Linked DNA regions of Homo sapiens: region 2 is linked to region 1. The links come from fine-mapping of genetic effects on gene expression. Tissue or cell type: whole blood. Region 1 holds a variant in brackets; the other region holds the start of a gene. All regions are shown on one strand. Distances are from middle to middle.

Region 1 (8,183 bases):
TGGATGGATGGATGGATGGATGGGCGAGTGGATAGATGGACGGTTGGATGGGCGAGTGGATAGATGGACGGTTGGATGGATGAGTGGAAGGACGGATGGACGGATGGATGGGCAGGGATGGGTGGAGGGATGGGCAGAGGAATAGATGGGCAGATGGCTGGGTAGACAGAGAGATGGTACACTGTAACAACTCCTAGTCCTTGACCCATTTTTGTTGGTCAGGCACACACCATGTAGTTCCCGTGCACTACTAAGATTATGTCACTTAATCTTCACAAGGAGCTCTACAAGGGGAGGGGGGAGTACAATGACCCTCCTTTTGTAGACAAGAAATTGCAGGTTCTGAAAATGCCAGTAACTTGTCCAGAGCTACATGGCTCTCTCAGTCTTGCCCCGTTCTGATCTCATGGACATGACATCCCTATAAACATGACCCCACTGGCTCCCACCCAAGATATTTTGTGGCCCCTGCCTCTGTGGCAGGTATGGATAGGTGGCTTGTGTGAGTGGGGACACTGGGGCCAACCGTCATGGTGCTGTCTAGTGACCCATGGGATTGCAGCCTGCAGCCTGGGTGAAGGTCAGCCTTGTCAGTCCTCCTTCTCTGTCTGCCCTATGACCACAGGAGACCCAGGAGCTGCAAAAGAAGCAGCAGTGGTACCAGGAGAACCAGGTGACGCTGACACCCGAGGATGAAGACCTGTACCTGAGTTACTGCTCTCAGGCCATGTTCCGCATCCGCATCCTGGAGCAGCGCCTCAATCGGTGAGCAGGCAGGGCAGGTGGAGAGAACCCACTGGGAGGCTGGACCACCAGCTTTGTAACCCCTCACCCTCTTTCCTTGCCTCTCTGACTTCAGACACAAGGAACTGGCCCCACTGAAGTACCTGGCTCTGGAGGAAAAGCTCTACAAGGACCCACGCCTGGGGGAGCTCCAGAAAATATTCGCTTGATGTCCCTCCTGGGGCCTCAGCCAGAGCTGCCAGAGAAAGGAAACCTCTTCCCGCAGCCTGGCTCCTGTGTTCCCTCTATCCAGCCAATGCCTGTTTACACAGACACCTGGCCTCACTGCCAGCCCACCTCCCCTACAGCCCTGTTTGTTCCTGCTTCTCATGATTTTCCTGTAAATAAACACACTCTTAATTTGCCATTTGTGCCTTGCGCTTCACAAGCTCCAGCAGCAGCCTTTCTCTTCTTCTGTTATCTATAGCCTGGGACCACCCCCTTCCTCCCCTTGGCCTGTCGTTTGCTTCCTGTCCTTCTCTCCGTTGGAATGTCAGGTCTTCACAGCACCTCTGCAGATGGTCCCACAGCCATCTGCAAACAACTGGTTATATCTCAATGTGACTAGGGTGGCCCACCTCACCAAGTGGGATGGGGAAGGCTAAGATGCATGCCCCAGAATTTGAGGACTGAATCCCAGCTCCTCCTCTTACCAGATACCACTTACCCATCTGTGGAATGGGGTAGCATTGTTGCATTAAATAAGACTTATGGCCAGGTGTGGTGGCTCACACCTGTAATCCCAACATTTAGGGAGGCTGAGGCAGGAGGATCACTTGATCCCAGGAGTTTGAGACCAGCCTGGGCAACATAATAAGACCCCATCTCTAAAAAAAAAAAAAAACAAAGAGCCAGGCATGGTGGCATGAGCCTGTAGTCCCAGCTACTCAGGAGGCTGAGGTAGGAGGATCACTTTCACCTAGGAAGTCAAGGCTGCAGTGAGCCATGATTGCACCACTGCACTTCAGCCTAAGCAACAGAGCAAAACCCTGTCTCAAAAAAAAGAAAAAAAAGACATAAATTATAAAGCAGGGAGGCTGGGAATGGCACATAGAAAGCAGTCATTAAATGTTAGCTTACAAAATAGCCAAAAAACACATGAAATGGTTGTCAAATTCATGAGTCATCTGGCAAATGAAATGTCACAACACCCTCCGGTATGAAAAAAATAAAAAGTACTGGTGACGATGAGAAACAACTGGAACTCCCAAATAGCCTTCCTAGTGAAAGTATAAATCAGTACAACCATTTTGGAAAACTGCTTGGCATTATCTATTAAAGCTAAACTAAAGCCCAACAATTCTACTCTTAGGTTCTACTCCAATCCATCATTCATCAAGTAAGAATGATGAACAACTCAACCGAAATGTAGATAGATAGTTATCTGCTAAAAGGCATGTGCTAGAACTTTCATAGCAGCATTATTGATAATAGCACCATACTTGGAAGTTACCCAAATGCCCATCAAGAGCAGAATGGATACATAAATTGTGGTCTTCAGATATTTTGGGTTGTCTTTAACTGCTTAGGGAGAACTGCTTAGGGAGAATGCTACTGGCATCTAGTGCATACAGGCCAGGGATGCTGCTAAACATTCTACAATGCCCAGAACAGCCCCCCACAGCAAATAATTATCTAGGTCTAAATGCCAATAATGTTGAGGTTATAGAGTATATTAGTCTGTTTTCACACTGCTGATTAAGACATACTCAAGACTGGGTAATTTGTAAAGAAAAAGAGGTTTAATGGACTCACAGTTCCACACGGCTGGGGAGGCCCCACAATCATGGCAGAAGGCCAAAGGCACATCTTACATGGTGGCAGACAAGAAAGAATGAGAACCAAGCAAAAAGGAAAATCCCTTATAAAATCATCAGCTCTCGTGAGACTAATTCACTACCATGAGAACAGTATGTGGGAAACCCCTCCCATGATTCAGTTATCTCCCACTGGGTCCCTCCCACAATATGTGGGAATTATGGGAGCTACAATTCACAAGATGAGATTTGGGTGGGGATACAGCCAAACCATATCATAGAGCAATGAAAATGAATGAACTGCAACACAACTATATGGAATGATATGGTCAAACTGCCTAAGTATAATGTCAAAAGATTCAAGACACAAAAGTACATACTCTATTATTCCATTTATGGAAAGAACAAAAATAAGGAAAATTAATTGGTGATATTAGAAGTCAGGACAACCGTCACTCTTGGAGTGTGAGGGTTAGTGAATGGATGTGAGCATGGAGCCCTGGGAGGGGAGGTTCTGGTTTCTAGTCACGTTCTGCTTTTTGACCTGGGTGTGTTCGGTTTGTAAAAATTCATCAACCTTGTGCACTTACAATGTGTCCTCTGGAGTGTTTTTGACTGCTTGTTGTCATGAATCTAATCAAGCCTTTAGCCCTAACTTAAGAAATTCAAGGGAAGAAATGCATTTAAGAAGAACGTCCATCTAACAAGAACTTCAGGAAATTCAGGTAAATGATACTAAAAGGAAACATTCCTAACGTGGGACAATCTAGGTAAATGGCCTGATCTCTTCAAAAGATCGATGTCATAAAAATAAAAGTTTGGGGACAGAAATGGAAAGAACTTAAGAGTCAAGTGTGGTGAATACTGATTGGTTCTTAGTTAGAAAAAAAAAGTCCTAAAAGGTTTTTGGGATGACTGGGGACATACGAATATGGACTGGTTGTTACAGAATTAAATTTTCTTAGCAGTGGTGATAACAATGGTTATTGTAGAATAAGGGCTTTATTTTTATTTTTTGAAATGGATCTCACTCTGTCGCCCAGGCTGGAGTACAGTGGCCCCATCCCAGCTCACCGCAACCTCTGCTTCCCAGTTTCAAGTGATTCTCCTGCCTCAGCCTCCCCAGTAGCTAGGATTATAGGCACGTGCGCCACCACGCCCGGCTAATTTTTGTATTTTTTTGTAGAGACGGGGTTTCACCATGTTGGCCAGGTTGGTCTCGGACTCCTGACCTCAGGTGATCCGCCCGCCTTGGCCTCCCAAAGTGCTGGGATTGCAGGCGT[G/A]AGCCACCGCGCCTGGCCAAGGGCCTTATTTTTAAGAGATACATGCTCAGTATTTGGTGTTGGGGTGAAATGTCATATCTACAATTTTCAAATGGTTCCGAAAAGACACACAGACGAAGCAAATATGGCAAACTGTTAACAAGTACTGGAATCTACGTGGTATCATTATATTGTCTTTTAAAGTTTTCTCTGTTTAGTTTTCTTTTTATAATACAAAATTAAGGGGAACTGCAGGCTAGACAGTTTTGATCCGATGTTATTCTGCTAATCTTTTAAAGGTGTCTTGCGGTGACTCACGCCTGTAATCCCAGCACTTCGGGAGGCTGGGGCGGGTGGATCACCTAAGGTCAGGAGTTCAAGACCAGCCTGGCCAAAATGGAGAAACCCCGTCTCTACTAAAAATATAAAAACTAGCCTTAGCCCGTCGTGGTGGCGGGCGCCTGTGGTTCCAGCTACCCAGGAGGCTGAAGCAGGAGAATCTGAAGCAGAAGGCTGAAGCAGAAGGCAGAGTGGGGACTCCCCCACGCTTTGGCTTTCAGAACAAGGGTTCGAATTCTGGGGCTATTACTTTCTGACCGTGTGGTTTTCTGCAAGCATCTTAACCCGGGCCTCAGTTTCCTCATCTGTAAATGGGAACAGGAATTCCTACCTCTTATGGTTGTACTGGGCGTTATGTGAGCCCAAGGAGCCCTGACCTGCGGTGAGAGGCTGGAGGCCGAAGGGCAAGGTTCGAGGGGCTCTGGGTGCCTGGGACAACCTCTGGGCAACAGGGAGAGGCGGCTGCGGGGCCAAGTCCCTCCTAAGCGGCCACGCGAGAGGCCCTGAGTCGAGAAGGGTTACGGCGCTTCCCAGAGCCCACCCCGCCCAACGTGTCACAAATAAAGCTGGCCTTTCTCCGATTCCCTGATTGCAGCCATTCAGGGAGCAGCCCCTTGCCCACGCATCCATTAGTCGAGGCGGTGGCTGCGTGTGCAGTGCTACAGGGTTCAGCGCCTGCCTCGGCTCCGGAATCAGGCTGTTTCCTTCTAGACCTCCCATGGGGGATTCAAGCCGGCGTCCGGGTCAAAGAACAGGGACAAAGTCCTCCTGCCACGGGGGACCATCTGCAGGCAAAGTGAAGAATGAGGAGCTTCGGCAAAATGCCGACTAAGGCCTCCTTAGGTTTTGCCCCACTCCAAGATGGAAGGCCTGAGGCTTCACACTGCCCCCGAAGTTCCTTTCCCATTGGCTATCTGGGAATTGAGTTTTCCAATAATGCGGACGCTGATTGGTCAATCCAGGACGGTTGCTCAAGCCATTGGCGCAGCCGCCATTGGAGGGCGGCTCTCAAAAGTTTTCAGACACAAATTAGGTTCGAGGGAGGAAACGGAGAGGAAAGGGAAAACTTGAGACGGAGGCGGGACTAAGGAAACGGCAGCTTGCATTGGTTTATTAGAGGCCAAGGGGCGGCTCTTGAACGTTCCTTCCTCTTGATTAGTCCTATTTAGGAAAAGAGGGCGGGTACTGAGGAAAAGCGGCAGAAGCGCCTGCTTCCATTGGTCAGTCCTGGCAGGAGGCGGAGCACCCGCGGCAGCTGATTGGTGCGGGAGGCAAGGTGGGCGGGGCTCTGAGCCGGAGGTTTTGTTGTGAGGGTCGGTTGTCAAGCAGCGGCCAATCAAGGCAGGGGATGGAGGCAAGTGGGGGTCGCGCCTGGAGCGGAGCCTCGGCCTCCGGAGCCGCAGCTGCAGGTGGAGTGGGCAAGGGGACGAGGTGGCGAGGGGACGGTGGGCCCTGGGCTGGGCCGAGCCAGGCGGGGCTGGCTGGGCTTGCGGGCAGAGAGCTCTGAGCGTGGGGAGGCTAGAGCCCGTACTCCGCAAGCAGAGGGTTGGGAGGATCAGCCGTGGCCGAGGGACCTGCCCCCGCCCCCGGACGAGAGGGGTCGGGGTGGAGGCCGGAGGGGGCAAAACCAGGGAGGCCGGAAGCAGAGCTGGGGGTCTGCAGAAGGACAGGTAATGAATAGGGAGAAGAGAAGTAGGAGAATGAATGAATGGGAGACCCCGCGAGCATATGGGAAAGGGCAGTAACGGGAGTCTGGCGAGGCAGGGGCCACGTGAGGGATATCGGGAGACAGGATGTGCATAAGTGGGAGACTCAGGGGGCAGGGAGAAAAGGGGGTGTGAACGGAGGACTAGAGAGGCAGACCCGGGGACCCAGGAGAAAGGGGACGGAGGGGAGCGGGCTCATGGGAAAGAGGTGAAGTGGCTGTGGGAAGGAGGTGGGAGGCTCCATGAGGAGGCCTTTTAGAGTTGAAGAGTCATAGCCACTTACGCCCAGACTGGAGGCCTAGTTCCTAGCTCTGTCCTTGGGAATCGCAGGGAGCAGGAGCGGTTCCCTTGCCAGGAGCTGGGGAATTGGACCATCAGGGTCGTCTTCGAGATTCTTTCCAAGGAGGACTTCAGTGGCCGTCTCTGGGATGCCTTTCCTAGGCCCCTAAGCTTAGCTTCTGACTCCGCTCTCCCACATCCCACACGTCAGACAAAAACAACGACTCGCAGGAAATCTATGTGAATTGCAGACACGTGGTCTTCTCCGCCCCACTGCGGCTGCTGCACTTTAGGCAGCCAGCATCCCGGAACAGAGCTGCAGCTCATTATCCTGGCCTCTGGGAGGAGTTTCTTTTTCCTTACGTTCCAAATCACCCTACCTGAGGTGCCCCCTCTGCAGATTCCCAAACCTAATTTGCAGTGCAGCTTCTGACTCTGGTGGCTTTGGTGGGTGTCAGTCTTTATCAAGTGGTCTTGGTGATCCAGGGAGCAACAGCTCTTACCAAGCATTTTCTAACATGACGTCACCTCTTGTTTGTATTGCAGCCCTGTATTGAGCTGAGATGGCTCGAGCCTAACATTCCATGATCCAGGATCGTGACAGATGTGCACAGGCTGCTGCTGTTGCTGCTGTGGGTAATTTGGAACCACGAGGCACCCCAGGGCCAGAAGACGAGGCATTCTGTCTGCCTGGATGTGTGGGAACTCTCTGCCAACTTGATTGGTGGATCTGGGGGGGGATCCACCCCCACCCCACGAGGAAAGCACAGTTTATTTTGTGGGTGGGGCTTCAGGTGCCAGCCAGCTGAAGGATGGCCACCCCTGTGGTCACCAAGACAGCCTGGAAGTTGCGTGAGTGGTTTTCATTTTTCTTTATCACCCCATTTATTCTGTTAGCGGCTTGTTGCTGGGAGGCCTGAACCCACAGCTTTGTTTCCTGTTCTTGGCACAGGAGGAGACTCCTAGACTTGGGAGTAAGATAGACCATTATGTAAATCATGACTGTGGCACTTCTTAGCTGGGTGACACTGGGCAGGTGACTTAACCTCTCTGAGGCTCAGTTTTCTTATATGTACAATGAGATGACGCCTGCATTCTATGGTTGCTGTGAAATTCAAGTGACAGGATGAACCCATCCTAAAGCACTTAGCACAGCATTTCCAGTTAGGCTGACAGTGGGGTGAGAAATCCTGAAAGATGTTCACAGCATTCTCAGACATCTCACAAGTCAAACTTCCCCAGTCAGATAAAAGCATCTTGGGCCTGGGATGGGGGAAGGAGTGGGAGCGAGGAGGGGCGGGCAGAGGGATGCAGACAGGGCTCGGATTGTAACTGATGGGCACTGTCCACTCCCACCATTGCCCTATACAAGTGGATCTGGACTCTTTCATCTGAAGACTTCATACTTTAAGAATTATTGAGGACCCCAGAGTGCTTTTGTTTGTTGGAGTTATATATCTGTCAGTATTTACCACGTTAGAAGTTAATACTGAGACATTTTCAAACAAGAGTATATAATCAAATAGGCCTCTAGTGATGTTCTGGGAAACTCCACCATATGCTTGAGAGCAAATGAGAGTGCAAAAGGCAGATGCCATCTTAGTGTTATTGTGAAAATCCTTTTGTCTTCTCAGACCCCCCGAAAGGATCTTGAGGATCCCAAGCATCCCCAGATCATATTTTGAGAATTCCCCTACACATTGGCACCTTGGTGGGCCCTGCCCCACCTATTGTAACTGGTTGGCATAGCTTTTGTGTGCTCCACCTGGTCACTGTCTGCTGCCAGCTGTCCCTGGGCTGGTTTTCAGGAGCTGGGACAAGACTCCACACTTTTTTTTTTTTTTGAGACAGAGTCTCACTGTCACCCAGGCTGGAGTACAGTGGTGCAATCTCAGCTCACTGCAACCTCTGCTTCCCGGGTTCATGCGATTCTCGTGCCTCAGCCTCCCGAGTAGCTGGGATCACAGGCACCCGCCACCACACCCGGCTAATTTTTGTATTTTTAGTAGAGACGGGGTTTCACCATGTTGGCCAGACTCGTCTCGAACCCCTGACCT
Region 2 (8,146 bases), 68 kb after region 1:
GGCCAATGACAAGTGAAGTCTATATACAGTAAGTTCTCATTCATGTATTCGACTAGCCTGCGCTCTGTGCCTAGCATGTGGCAGGCACCGTATGGGTGTTGAGATACAAAGATTCATTCAGTCTTCATTTAATAATGCCTACTGGGTGCCAGGCATCTGCCAGGGGTCCTTTTGGATCAGAAGAGATGAGGCCTGAAAACTCCCAGTCAGAAGGGAGATAAACACTTCAAAAAAACCCTCACAGTCTGAGCAGGCTACTGGAGGCGGCAGGTGCGAGCCAGGCACCAGGTGGTGTGGGGAATGGAGGGGGGCAGAGAGCATTGGTCAGGGATAGAAAGCTTCAGTCAGGGATAGGTCCCTCATGAACTGAACAAATGAACAGAGCTCAGGTATTCCCTGCAGAAGTCTTTATTGAGCACCTACTGTGTGCAAAGCAACCTTGAGGACATTTAAGGTGATCATGCTACAGTCCCAGACTCAGACAGTAATGTCATTTACAGAAGAAGCGAAGTCAGCTTGGAGAGGCAACATGGGGTTTTAAGATTGAGGTGGGGGTAACTGAAGGACTTCCTAGTGGAGCTTCCTGGGCTGTCGACTACTCTCCCCATCCGTCACTGCAGTGGCCACTTCCTGCCAGGAAGTGAAGATAGCTATTTGAAGGGTGTCCACCTCCCCTGACCCACTATGGGCCCACACACATTCATGTTTGCAGCCCCACTGCACCCAGTCTGCAGCTGCACCCACACTAAGAACTCTGGGATGGCTTGTGGGGTGAACGTTCTGAAATGAACACACACAAAAGCTTGAACTGAAGCCTGGAAGAGAGGTCAGGGCTGGACACAGACTCAGAGCTAAACAGGGCCACCAACGCCACAGGTGAGGAGGCAATCATCAAAGCTTGAGCAAGAGGAGACAGCCATGTGATAACAGGGCTCACTGCGGGGTGGAAAGCTGCAGAAGGAAGCTGAGAGAGGGACAGGAGCTCCAGGCAAGTATAGAGTTTTCAGAAGTGACTGAAGTGTAAGTGGGAAGGAGAGGTTGGTCAGTGCCCAGTGCATCATGCCAAAGAGACGTGGAGGACTGAAAGCCCAGACAGGCAGAAAGCCTGAGCCTGTGGAGGGAGAAGGGCAGATGGCAAACTTCGGAGGGCTCAAAGAGTGGGGCGGGAGCTGGGGGAGGAAGCAGCCACTTCCTTCTCCTTGGGGGTGTTTGGCTAGGATGGGAAGGAGAGGATGTGGTGTCTAGAATAGGGGGAGAGTTGAGCATATTGGGGAGACAGAGAGACAGGAGTGACTAAAGCATTGAGAGGCAAAAATAAATAAATAAATAAATAATAAAGTAAAGGGTCCAGGGGTTAGGGGCCTGAAGATCTGGTGTCTGATGTTTGCAGAGCCCAACCCTGGAAGAATGCCAGGCACCTGGCGAGGAAGCCATGGTCTCTTCCTTCCTTGACTTAGAACAACTAGGAGGCTCCTAGGTTCAGTCTTACTGGGAAGGGGATGGGAATGTGGGCCAAAGGACAGGGCAGAGGCTGATCTAAATACGTGGGCCAGCTCCACTGAGGAAACTGAGATGGACCAGTGTGGCGTGGAAGAAACCAAGGGGAGCAGCCAAATGTCCTCTTCTCCAGGCTGCCTGGCACAGAGCTGGGCACACAACCAACCCTGCAGACCAGCTGTCCAATGGGCAAGGGAAGGAGCAAGGCAGGTCCATCTGCAGTCTCGGCTGCTGGGAAGGTGAGACAGTGCAGGGCATTGGAGGCTGACTCCACAGTGGACAGAGAAGACTTTCAGGGAGATCAGCTCAGCTCAGTCTGAGGGGCAGGGACAGGAGGAGATAGCGTTTCTGCGGTTATCAGGAAGGGAAGTGGAGGAGGCAGCCAGGAAGATATCGGGAAGAAAGAGGAAGGGCGTGTGCTAGATCCCGAAGAGGAAAAAGCAGCTGAATTTAGCAGCCTCAGGGGTGTGAAGGTCAAAAGTATCAAGGAATCTTAAGCCCAGGGTTCTGGGCCAAGAAAGCAGGACTCTCTCTCATTTACATGGGCATCTGAGATGAAACCTGGTGTCCGGGGACTTCTACCAACCTAGGATTCGTGGGGGAGGGCAGTGGGACTGGTTCAGAACCTGGCTCCCCTGTTTACTAGATGTCTGACCTTGGGAGAATTACTTTGCCTCTCCGTACTTCATTATCTCCATCTATAAAATGGGGAGAACACCACCTTATAGGGTTGCTCTAAAGATTAGACAAGGCCAAGTGTTCAGAACAATACTGGCATATACAAAGAGCTCCAAAATTTTATTTTTCAGTTACTTTGCTCCAGTGGTGGGTGAATGCAGAGGGCCTGGCTGGGGAAGAGGGTCTCTGCCTCTCTGGGTTTAGACCAGGACAGCAGAGCTGCAATACTCCCCCTGCCCTAGATCAGGGACATTGCAAAGACTGGGGGGACAGGCTGGACAGCTGCTCAGAGACTGCAGCAAGCAGGGCTTGGTCGCCCTGGGAGAGCAGGCAGAAGGTCAAGGAAGTTGTACAGGGAATGCCACCTCCCTGCACACCATCATCTATCCTGGGCTTTCCAGGGCAACCTAGATTTCAAACCCTCTGCTCCCTGGTGCCCCTGTGAACAGCAGAACTCACCACCCTGTGCCCCTAAAGTCCACTCACTGCAAATGCAGGGCCCCATTCTGAGACTGCATTCCTAGCAAATGACTCTCCCTGGTCAAGGAGACGGCTACTCTAACAAGGGCATGGGGAATACACGTCTGGGAAAGAATGGGTGCTCACCCTGTTCAGGCAGAGGAAAAGCCGGGGAAGGTGAAAGACCAGGGGTGGCCACAACCCGCAATCTTGAGACAGTGTTGGGGTATGGAGGTGGGGGCTGGGTGGCAGTAAATGGTACTCCAGAATTTAATTAAACACAGCTTCCTCTTTAATATCTCCCAGGACCAGGCCCTTCACTGCACCAGCCAGAGTTCTGCTCTAACTAGCAATGCTGGGCTTAAAGGGGTGGTCCTGGGATCGCCCTCCCTGCTGAGACCCTCACAACTGCTGCGGCTGTCAATGGCCCGATTCCTCACTGCCCGGAGGGCACCGGCCAAGGCCCTTCTTCCTAACCTCTGGGCGGGCGCACCCCGCCCCAGGCCCTGCCAGGGAAAAAGCGAACTCCCCAAGGGACGTGGTGGGAGGGACCCAAAGGCAGCCTTCCAGGGAGCCCTGGGGGTGGGGAAGACGCCAGGAAGGGGAGAGGGCGGCGCCGATTGACAAGCCCATCCCGGGTAGGGTCTGCGCTCTTCTCGTTCAATAAAATCCAAACGGGGTCCCGAGGCTGCTCGGATCCCGTGGGACACGCCGCCCCTGTGCCCAGCTCCCAGCAAGGTCCTCGACTCGGGCTGAACGGCGCTGGAGGGGACCTCGCAGGGCTGGGTCTCCCGGGCCTTTCCCTCCCCGCGCCCATAGCGGGTCCGGGCAGAGGGGTCCCGAGGGCAGGGCCGGCCCGGACGCGGCGCCCCAAACGGCGGGCCGGGCAGAGCCCAGCGCCCCGCTCGCACCCAGCCCGCCCGGGCCCCCCACTCACCGGCCTGGCGGAGGCAGGATCCAGGCGTCGCCGCAGCGCCCGGGGCTCGGCCCGGCCCGGCCCGCCGGCAGGAGGCAGCTCCACGCCGCCGCCTCCTCCTCGGCCAGCCCGCTCGCGCCCCTCCCGCACACTTTCCACAGGAAATGATTAACTCGGGCCGCGGCGCGTTCCCATGGCAACCGGCTCCGACCCCGGCGGGGGGCGGCGGCGCGCGCCCGCACTCACGCGCACTGGCGCGCACGCGTCAGCCCGGGCGCGCCCCCGCAGGTCTCCCGCCGGCACTCCCACTCCCACTCCCACTCCTTCGCGGGGCCTCCCACTCGGTCTCTCCCGCCTCCCCGCGTCCCGCACTCGCACTGGCACACGTGCTCATGCGTTCCCTGAAGGCTCTCACAAAACAGGCCTGCACACGGGCTGGCACACACGAGGCAGCCCACACAGCCCCACACCTGGTGAGCCATGCGTACTTTTGCACAGCCTCAAACCCGAGTGCAAAACTTCCACGCGAGTACTCACACATACACTTCTCACGCGGGCTCTCATACCAGTACGTGTCTTCCCATCCCAACACACACACAAGCTCTTACTCACGAGACAATACATGTACATCCCTTACCGTGTCCTTGCACGCGCTGGCGCACATGCACTCACACTGTTTACAGCGCACACGCTCTCACTCGCTCCACCACCTACTCGCTGGCCAGGCCGCCTTCTAGCCACAGCACTTCCTACCTCTGCACCCCCAGCCCCACCCCAGCAAATGAATATCTTCCCAGCAAGGAAGCTGCCTGGAGTCCCTTAAGGTAAAACACACCAATGGTGCAGCAGTTCCCGGCCTTGCTGCAGAAGGCCCTGCTACTGGGGCACCTAGAGCCTCAGAAGAGGCCTGGGGGAGGCCAGGGGCCTGCCAGCCGGGAGAGACAGCTGACCTGGAGGAGCCACTCTGTTCTTTGTCTCCCAAACAGAGGCAGCATTTTATTCCAGAGCCAGCAGCAATATTCTCCCTCACTCTCCACACCCCCGGGTGCGGAAGAGGAGAAAGCAAGTCACTCTGAAGCCAGCCCATGCAGGCTGACGGTTCTGCAGATAATCCCAGGAGGGCGGGTACTCTGTCCCTTCCTGCTTGTCAGGGGATGGCCCAAGAAGATCAAGGAGAGGACTGGAGGGGGTCGGGCAACTCCAGGTGGGTTCTATCTCCTGCTGCCGCCCAGGCGCTGGGCTGCCAGTCAAGAATCTCGACCAGCGACGGAGCCAAGGGCCTGGGCCTCAGATTGTTCTGGACGCCAGAGCAGGACAGTCACAGTCCCCCAGCTGGAAGCAGCCTAGTGCATGCTTTATTTGACAACTGAGATTCCTCAGTGAAGGCCTGATAGAGGGTGAATGTAACGCTCCTGGAATCATTCCCTAGAGAGTTAGATTTCCAGCTGAACACCACACTGGAGAACCCTTCCAATGGGAGAGAAAGCCTTATTTGGGGAGTTATGATCTCTGAATTCCTCTGCCTGCCCTCCAAACAGCAGTGATCCAGGGGACCGCAAGGGTGGATGAAGGCAAAATGTCTCTAGAATTCTGATTTAGTATCTATCTCCCTTGATTATAGTCCCTATGAGTTGATGGGGCGGGGGATGGGGAGGACAGAATGTCTTTAAAGTCCTGGTTCAAAACTGGAGACTTTTTCTTACTCAGGGATTGAGTACATTGACATTAACTGTAGGTCCTTCCCACCAAAGCCAAAGCCAGATTTTTAAATTAATAATAACATTTATTGTTCTTTTGCTTTGATTACAAAAGTAATAGATGTTCATTGTAACCATATCCCACACACTGGAGATAAATGCTGCCAACACTTTAGAAGTCTTTTTTTTTCCTGTGTACATAATAGATGCCATTATTGAAGCTAACACTGTGTCAGGCACAGCACTAAGCTCTTTATAAACAAAATCCCATTTAACCCTGAACACCCTATGAACACCAGTACTGTTTCAGGACACCCGTGTTTCAGGAAAGGAAACTGAGCCTCAGAAAGTTTGTTCACAAATGCAGTGTGTGATAGAGCTATGACTCCAATAGGTACTCACACAGTACTATCAGATGCATATGGGTATAACAACTTATTAAGATCAAAGCACCAGCGAAGGAAAAAGGAAATTGAAGTGTAAGGAGGTTGTATTTTTGGAATTCTAGCAAAACTCCGATTTGAAACGTAAAAACTACTTGTTTCATGGTTGTTGCATTTTTGAGACAAGATCTTGATCTGTTGCCCAGGCTGGAGTGCAGTGATGCAATCATAGCTCACTATAGCCCCGAACTCCTGGGATCAAGTGATCCTCCCACCTGAGCCTCCTGAGTAGCTGGGACTACAGGCACACACCAGTGTGCCTAGCTAATTTTTTTTTTTTTTAAGTAGAGATGGGGGTGTCTCACTATGTTGCCCAGGCTGGTCTCAAACTCCTGGGCTCAAGGGATCCTTCTACCTTGGCTTTCCAAAGTCCTGGGATTACAGATGTGAAGATGTGAATCACTGTGCCTGACTCAATTTTTTTTTTTTTTTTTGAGACGGGGGCTCGCTCTGTCACCCAAGCTGGAGTGCAGTGGGATTACAGGCGCACACCACCACACCCAGCTAATTTTTTATATTTTTGGTAGAGACAGGGTTTCACCATGTTGGACAGGCTGGTTTCGAACTCCTGACCTCAAGTGATCCCCCTGCCTCGGCCTCCCAAAATGTTGGGATTGCAGGCATGAGCCACCGTGCCCAGCATGACTCAGTTTTTTAAAAAGAATATTGTGTGGAGTCGGGGTCTAGCTCTGTCGCCCTGGTTGGTCTCAGAATCTTAGCCTCAAGCGATCATCCTGCTTCAGCCTCCCAAAGTGCTGGGATTATTTGCATGAGCCACCATACCATGCCCATCCCAGTTGTTGGAATTTAAGAATGTACAATGTCATCAGGAACTACGTACCAACTCCAAGGTCATTTCTAACCCAGAAACTTCGCTGATGATTTGCATAGGAGGCTGCCAACTCTCCTGGCCCCGGGAAAGGTGCAAGTTTTGCTGAAACCTGGCCATTCCAACACTGAAGTCCTAAACCCTTGAGGGAGGACTCTTGGGTTCAGCCTTAGCCTTGACCCTTCCTGCCGAACTCTGGCAGAGGCACAGCTGTCTCAGGGAGGGCCAGACAGAAGACAGTGTCCAGAACACTGCAATTCCACGCCCACATCCACCCCATCCCCAGGCAGGGACTAGCAGCGCCATCTTTGTGTTCAGACAAGATCAGGTGTGTTCACGGTGGTATGCCCATAGACTTTTTTTTTTTTTTTTTTTTGAGACAGAGTCTCACTCTGTTGCCCAGGCTGGAGTGCAGTGGCGCAATCTCGGCTCACTGAAATCTCTGCCTCCTGGGTTCAAGCAATTCTCCTGCCTCAGCCTCCCAAGTGGCTGGGATTACAGGCATGCGCCACCACGCCCAGCTAATTTTTGTATTTTTAGTAGAGACGGTGTTTTGCCATGTTGGCCAGGCTGCTTTCAAACTCCTAATTTTTGTATTTTTAGTAGAGACGGGGTTTTGCCACGTTGGCCAGGCTGCTTGCGAACTCCTGACCTGAGGTGATCTGCCCGCCTCAACCTCCCAAAGTGCTGGGATTACAAGCATGAGCCACCACACCTGACCCATCTTTGTGTTCAGAGGGCCTGAAACCCTTTACTGCTCAGGCATTCGTCAGAGAAGTGGCCAAGAGCCTGAGAGTTCTGCTCCCCAAAGGGAAGGAAAGAAGGGGAATGAAAAGTCAGATTGTGTTTAATCTGATTCTCATAGCAACCCAGAGTAAAGCACAGATAAGATTTACATGATTTTCCCATTTTAAATGATTTAACCTCAGATCAAGTCTTCTCCGAGCCTTTGCAAATGTTGTCCTCCCTGCCTGGAAAGCCCCTCTCCTTCACCCCATTCTCATCTGCCTCCACTAACCCTTACCTGGCCAATTCCATACCTGCTTGTCCCTCCTTCAAGTTTAGAGGTCACCTTCTTTGACCCTCCCAGGCACCAGCAGGCGGGCTCAACTCACCCCCTGCAGCATCCCCGACCCTGGATCATGATGGCGTTCCTGTGTATACCATCTGCTCCTTCAGGACAGGACCCTTTCGTTACTTGATCACAGGGAAATCCTCAGCTGACCCCAGCTCAGGGCCTGGTATCACAGACATGTTCATTGAATAAATCCATAGATCCCATAGAATTCAGAAGGGAAGAACAGGTGCGTGAAATGTACCCAAACAGACTTTCTTCCCATGTAAAGTAATGATAATTTCTACCAAAAGGAAGTAAGAGAAGGCTCCTTAGCAATTATTTCCATGTGGTCAGGAAGGAGTGCCCTGCAGCTGTGAAAAGTGTGTCCTCTCATGCTTCTGGGTAACAGAACATTTATTGAAGTTGGAGAAACTCATTCTGGAGTGAGCCGCATATTAAGTAATCCTGACCCAATTAGCTGCTTTTTTGAATCCACATCTTCCAATCTTCCAATCCCTCTGAAATCATTCATCATGAGCACCGCAGAAAGAACTACGGAGGAGGCTGGAC

What was found. PIP is the estimated chance that this variant, and not a neighbour inherited with it, causes the effect.
Region 2: it holds the start of KIFC3, and the variant in region 1 is fine-mapped to the expression of KIFC3 in whole blood (INTERVAL, PIP above 0.99).

Annotation. Positions count from the first base shown.
Region 1 is chr16:57,730,306-57,738,488 of GRCh38, forward strand. DRC7 (dynein regulatory complex subunit 7) reads left to right here. Exons shown (of 19, transcript NM_001289162.2): 18 at 626-765; 19 at 860-1,500. The coding sequence ends at 953. KATNB1 (katanin regulatory subunit B1) reads left to right here and starts at 5,465. Exons shown (of 20, transcript NM_005886.3): 1 at 5,465-5,550; 2 at 6,673-6,978. The coding sequence starts at 6,939. It overlaps LOC107984852 (a long non-coding RNA gene), which reads right to left and starts at 6,339. Exons shown (of 2, transcript XR_001752221.3): 1 at 6,131-6,339; 2 at 3,524-5,302. RefSeq lists enhancers at 3,316-4,293, 4,923-5,032, 5,012-5,306, 5,053-5,222, 6,591-6,660 and a silencer at 5,533-5,772. The variant G/A (reference allele first, on the strand shown) is at 3,824.
Region 2 is chr16:57,798,799-57,806,944 of GRCh38, forward strand. It overlaps KIFC3 (kinesin family member C3), which reads right to left and starts at 3,693. Exons shown (of 20, transcript NM_001130100.2): 1 at 3,572-3,693. RefSeq lists enhancers at 2,636-3,312, 3,990-4,666.